Linked DNA regions of Homo sapiens: region 2 is linked to region 1. Evidence: fine-mapped expression QTL. A gene starts in region 1. The other region holds a variant in brackets. All regions are shown on one strand. Distances are from middle to middle.

Evidence for each region. PIP is the estimated chance that this variant, and not a neighbour inherited with it, causes the effect. A credible set is the group of variants that fine-mapping cannot tell apart.
Region 2: its variant is the best candidate, but not a certain one, in a credible set for the expression of SCGB2B2 in pancreas (GTEx, PIP 0.69).

What each region holds. Positions count from the first base shown.
Region 1 is chr19:34,676,133-34,679,036 of GRCh38, reverse strand. It overlaps SCGB2B2 (secretoglobin family 2B member 2), which reads left to right and starts at 1,878. Exons shown (of 4, transcript NM_001025591.4): 1 at 1,878-2,904. ZNF302 (zinc finger protein 302) reads right to left here and starts at 1,359. Exons shown (of 5, transcript NM_001289187.2): 1 at 934-1,359; 2 at 224-300. The coding sequence starts at 232. It also overlaps the pseudogene ZNF807P and the pseudogene SCGB1B2P. RefSeq lists a silencer at 1,111-1,170 and enhancers at 593-1,489, 1,621-1,680, 1,731-1,830, 1,490-2,387.
Region 2 is chr19:34,597,775-34,600,680 of GRCh38, reverse strand. All of the region lies in intron 1 of SCGB2B2 (secretoglobin family 2B member 2), which reads left to right. It also overlaps the pseudogene ZNF807P and the pseudogene SCGB1B2P. Among named protein-coding and RNA genes, the nearest start is that of SCGB2B2, 78 kb to the left of the region's middle. The variant T/G (reference allele first, on the strand shown) is at 1,522.

The DNA of each region.
Region 1 (2,904 bases):
CTAGAAAGTCTTCTAGCAGAAAACTGTAGAAAAGAGGAACACTGGGTGATGAGGACAATACCTTGGAGCTCTCCTGTGGGCTCCATTCTTCCTATAGTGAAAGGAACCATAGATCTAGTCCCTTAAATGGACTTGATTAGGTGGGAACAGGCAGGAGAAGCAAAGCAAACACACAGAGGCCTAATAAAGTGTTTCAGGAAGATTTGGGGACACACCGACTTACCTGAGACATTATTCTGCAATTTCCAATGGCCAACAGAGTCCCCTTTCCAGGTTCTTATCTTAGAGATGGGCAGTGTCCTGAGGGCACAGAAAGGCAGGAAAAAGCAGTCATGAAAAATCGGGCTTATCTTGCGGCACCTGTCACACACCTTAATGGAAAAGCACACTGGTAATCACTCGCCGGAGCGTCAATCTCTCCCTGGGAAGGAACAGGGTGTTTCTCCGCAAGGGCTATTTACCAGGTGCCACCTGCGGGGAAAATCAATTATTCTGTATACAAAAGACTCATAAAACAACGGTAACAACTTTATCAGCTCGTTCAGTCTTCACCACTTTGCAAGGTGTGCATTCATATTATTCCAGATTTTTTTTTTTTTTTTTTTGAGACGGAGTCTCGTTCTGTCTCCAGGCTGGAGTGCAATGGAGCGACCTCGACTCACTGCAACCTCTGCCTCCCGGGTTGAAGCGATTCTCCTACCTCAACCTCTCGAATAGCTGGGATTATAGACACGTGCCACCACGCCCAGCTAATTTTTTTTTGTATTTTTAGTAGAGACGGCGTTTCGCCATGTTCGTTAGGCTGGTGCGGTGGCTTACGCCTTTAATCCCAGCACTTCGGAAGGCGGAGGCGGGCGGATCGCTTGAGGTCGAGTTCTAAACCAGATTTATTTTTTAAAATGAAGACAAAACTGAAATTCCGAGATACTGAACCCATTTGTTCAAGGTTGCACAACTGAAAGCGCCGGCTTCATGACGACATAACCCAAAAAAAACTGTAGCTGGCGTCTGCTCTCGCGCCCACTTCGCTCTCACAACAGTGCCAAGAGGTCGGCGCCGTCATCACCCCGCGTTTACACGGCTCAACAGGAAGGCCAGGAAATGCCCAAGGCCCCGGCCGTGGTCAAACCGCGCGCGGACCCAGGGCCTTAGCCCCGCCGTCGCCGCGACCCACACTTGCCGGAGTCCTCAGCAGGGCCTCACCGTCCCGCAGGCGCCCCGAGCCCGCGCCTCCGCGGACCTGACGCGCCGCGTAGCTGGTGAGCGGGTAACGGCGGCCGACCTCCGGGAACGACACTGCCCCAAACCGTTCCTTAGCTTGGAAGCCGCCGCCAGGCCTGAAGCTATCGCGGGACTGACCCAGTGCACCGCCCACGGCGAACCACATTTCCCAGAATCCTCCCCCTGCGGTACAAATGTCCCGGAAGCCGCGAACCGCCGGCACCCGAAGACCACACTTCCCAAGGGTCTCTGCGGCTGCGCGGACCTGGTGCGCCGCGGGCAAACCGGTCACGGCTTTGTAAGTAGCTTAACCGCCTGGGGCCGTCGACCTAGAGCCGGCCAGCTAGGACCATGCGCAAATTGTCCTGGGGCACACAGTCGTCCTCTGGTGAACGATACAACTCGAAACCAAGGGACACCCTCTACTTATAAGGGCCATGGCGCCCGGACCAAGAAATTACATTTCCCAGAAAACTGCAGCCGTGCCAAGGTCTTCCGGGTCATTCCTGCGCTCACACAAACGTTTCCCTCCGAGACATGGGCAGCCCTTGCTGGTACCGCGCAAGTGCTCGCCGTTGCTAGCAAAGGGGCTCCTCTCATCCCAAACCCTGCCGCTATGCTGTTCACCTTCAGGTCTTTTTTTTTTTTTTTTTTTGGCACTCATTTGCCCAAGACGATAACTCACAAAACGCCCTGTGGCCCGACTGTCACGACTGTAGTTCGCCAACCAAGGGCATTTCCTGGAAATGCAAGGGGACACGTATCTGTGACACTAATGGCCGTTCTGACGTGCGTTACGCCCCTGGAAGGACTTGGAAATACTGAACTTGAGTGAGCACTGGGAGGATGGAGACCCTCATCCTGGGAGGAGTCACTCCTCCCGCAGCCATCACAGCCTGACGCCCCCTCTCCCCAGAAGTGCTTCTTAGGCCCACCCAAAAGGGCAATGGACCTCTCTGTATGCAAGCCAGAGCAGTCTACTGTTTGTGTATATTTGGGTTGTTTACTTTCTTTTTAACACTTAAATGTTAATTGACTTCAATCATTTTTAAAATTATAAATAGTGTCGCTATAGACTTTTTTGTACTTATTAAGTACTGACCTGCATGATCTTCGTGAAGCAGTGCTTCTGTTACCAGAAAGGGGTCCGGATCCGACCCCAAGAGAGAGTTCTTAGAGCTCACGCAAGAAAAAATCCATGGGAGAGCACAGTGCAAAGCCAAAGCAAGTGTATTAAGAAAGTAAAGAAACAATGGGTACTCCATTGTTAGAGCAGCAGCTTGGGCTGCTGGACTAGGGATACTTGTATTTATTGCTTGATGATGTGCTAAACAAGGGTGGATTATTCATGAGTTTTCCAGGAAAGAGGTGGGCAATTTCAATTTCTCGGAGCTGAGGGCTTCCCAGCTTTTTGAACCATACAGGGTAACTTCTGAACCTTACCATGGCATTTGTAAATTGCCATGGCACTGATGAGCGTTTCTCTTAGCGTGCTAATGCATATAATTAGCATATAACCGAGAGGTGAAGCCAGCTGGGCTTCTGGATCAGGTGGGGCCTTGGAGAACTTTTCTGTATAGCTGAAGGATTGTAAATACACCAATCAGTGCTCTGTGTCTAGCTAAAGGTTTGTAAATGCACCAGTCAGCACTCTGTAAAAACGGACCAAACAGCACTCTGTAA
Region 2 (2,906 bases), 78 kb after region 1:
TCACATTTCACTAAATGACGAATAAACACATGAAGAGGCCTCAACCTCATTACACCAGAAAATGCAAATGGAAACCACAGTGAGATGCCCCTGACACCTACCTACCAGATGGTTCACACAACACTGACGATACCAGATTGTGGCAATCTAGAGCAGCAGGAAATACTACAGTGTGGCTGGGGAAGTGCATTGTACAACTGCTTTCAAGGTTTCCTGTTTCCTAGGATAGTCAAGAATATGAATGCCTTATCACCTAAAATTCCACACATGGGCACAAACCCCAACAAATGTGAATATAAACGTGTACAAGACATCAACATATGAAAGCTCCCTACAGTGTTGTTCATGATAATAGAATCAGTGTACCAGGGTAGACTTAAACAATGGAGATAACAACATGGATGAATATCAACAACAATGGGGAACAAAAAAGTAAGATACGGGAGAACAGACACATTACGATCCCAGCCATATAAATTGTAAAAGAGCAAAATTAACGTTTACTGTATATGAAGATGTTTAGGTAGAAAAACCATCCACTGAAACAACAAGTTAATGGGTGCAGCACACCAACATGGCACATATGTAACAAACCTGCACGTTGTGTACATGTACCCTAAAACAAAGTATAATAAAAAAAAACCATAAAATCAGGACAGTGGTCTACTCTAGGAGGTGAGGCTGGTGCCTTGAGGGGCTCACAATGATCTTTCTTGAACTGGAGGGCGCATTGTGAGGTTTGCATTACAGTAATCACTTAAGATACACTTTACATGGTGTGTACGTCTCCATACTTGTGTTCTATGTCACAATAAAAAGATGATTAGAGGTCAGGGGAGGAGGGAAAGGGAGAAATGGGAAGTGAAGAAGGGGAGAAATGGAGAAGGAAGAAGAGAGGCAGGAAGACTGAGGAACAGGGGGAAGAGGGAGAGAACAGGGCGGGGAGGAAAAGACAGGAGAGGACAGGGAGGGAAGAGAGGATGGTGATATGGTTTGGCTCCGTGTCCCCACCCAAATCTCATCTTGAATTGTATGCCTATAATTCCCACATGTGTGGGAGGCACCTAGTGAGAGATCATTGATTCATGAGGGATTTTCCCCACACTGTTCTCATGGTAGTGAATAAGTCTCACGAGATCTGATGGTTTGATAAGGGGAAACCTGTCTTGCTTGGCTCTCATTCTGTCTCTTGCTGCCGCCATGTGAGATATGCCTTTCACCTTCCACCGTGATTGTGAGGCCTCCCCAGCCACGTGGAACTTTAAGTCCAATAAACCTCTTTCTTTTGTAAACTGCAGAGTCTCAAGTATGTCTTTATTGGCAGCATGAAAAGAGACTAATACAGATGGGGAGAAGGAGAAAGGGCGAGCTGCACCCATGTGACCTGCCTGCCCCAACTCCTCCACAGCTGGGTCGTCCTCCCCACCCATCCCACTCCTCCACCATAGATCCCTCTGCTGTGGGACTACTCCCTGCTCAGCAGGCTCACCAGCTCCAGGCCCTTCTAGAAAGCCTCATCTC[T/G]CAAAAACCTGTCCCAGAACTCTAAGGTGAACCTACAGTTGAGGGAGCTCCTCTCCCAGTATCAACCTAGCTCCCAATTCCCAGTGCAGGAGAAAAGCAAAGCAGGTGAGCTGGGAGGAGTGCAGGATTTGGGGGCAGGCCATTCTCCAGGTGCCAGCCTGGCCGCAGGGCCAATGGTGCCTGGCAGAGAACCACAGGACTTGGTAAGCAGAGGCCAAGCAGGCCCCAAGGCCAGATTTGAGTGGGAGCCAATGTGGCCACGTGGGCAAGAGGCCTGACTAAACAGCCCAGGAGTCCCATCTACACCACTGGGTCCCTGGAAGATGCTCAAGTTCCCCAAACAACTGGGGATCAGAAGCAGGGGATTAGAGTCACACTTCATCTTAGACACCAGCCCCAGCCCTGTCTCAGCCACAGAGAGGCCAGGGCACGGACCTGTCACAAGGAAGTGATTCCTGCATCACAGCACAGGCTGGAAGCAAGGCAGGAAATGGGGACTGGCAGATGCCACATGCTGTGCCTACAGGGCCACACCCAGCTGCACTCTTGCCCCTACCCTCCCTATCCCAGCAAAGCCATGCCCCATGGTTTTCCCCCTGGGTCCAGACCCCACCACCCCAAAAGCCTGGCTGAGGTGTCCAAAAATCCTCTGCAGGATGCCCAAGTTCCTCAAACAACTGGGGATTAGAGTCCCCTCTAGTGACCTCACCTTGGACAGCAGCCCCAGCCCTATCCTCAGCCCCAAGGACGCCAGGGCATGAGGCTGTCACAAGGAAGTGGGTGGCTCAAGGCCAGTGCCTGTGCCTTGGCTGAGGGACACGGCTCAGGTCGGTTTGCTCCATAATTCCCTAGACCCTACAGACCCCATTCCACGCTCTGCTGCAGCCCAGTGTGCCGCACACTGCTCTGCTGTGCCATGTTGTGTTGTGTCAAGTTGTGCCGTGGCATGTGCTGCGTCACTGTTCCTGCAAACTCCCTGTCCGGGAGCTCTAGGGCCCTGACCTCTGAGAATTCCTAGCCCCGAGTCAGCCTCAGGCAAGGCCTGCATTCTTGCTGCCTCCACTTCCCTGGCTCAGTCTTGCAGCCCCCGCTGACCCCTCTGCCACTCACCTACCACCCATCACCCCCACTTAGAAGCCAGAAAGCAGTGGGAGCAGTCTCCCCGACCCCTCCATTCTCTGCCCCCTCTGCCCCCTCACTCCATTCTCCAGGACTCTCTATCCTAACATGGCTCTTGAAAACGCCCTGACCCACCCACCAGCCCCAGGGCACCTCCTGCCCAGTTGTTTGGCACAAGAGACGCCCCCACACCGGCCCCATCATGTGCCCTGCAGGCCTCGAGGCTGCAGCATGGGATGCCTGTCTGGCCCTGGACCTGCCCTGGG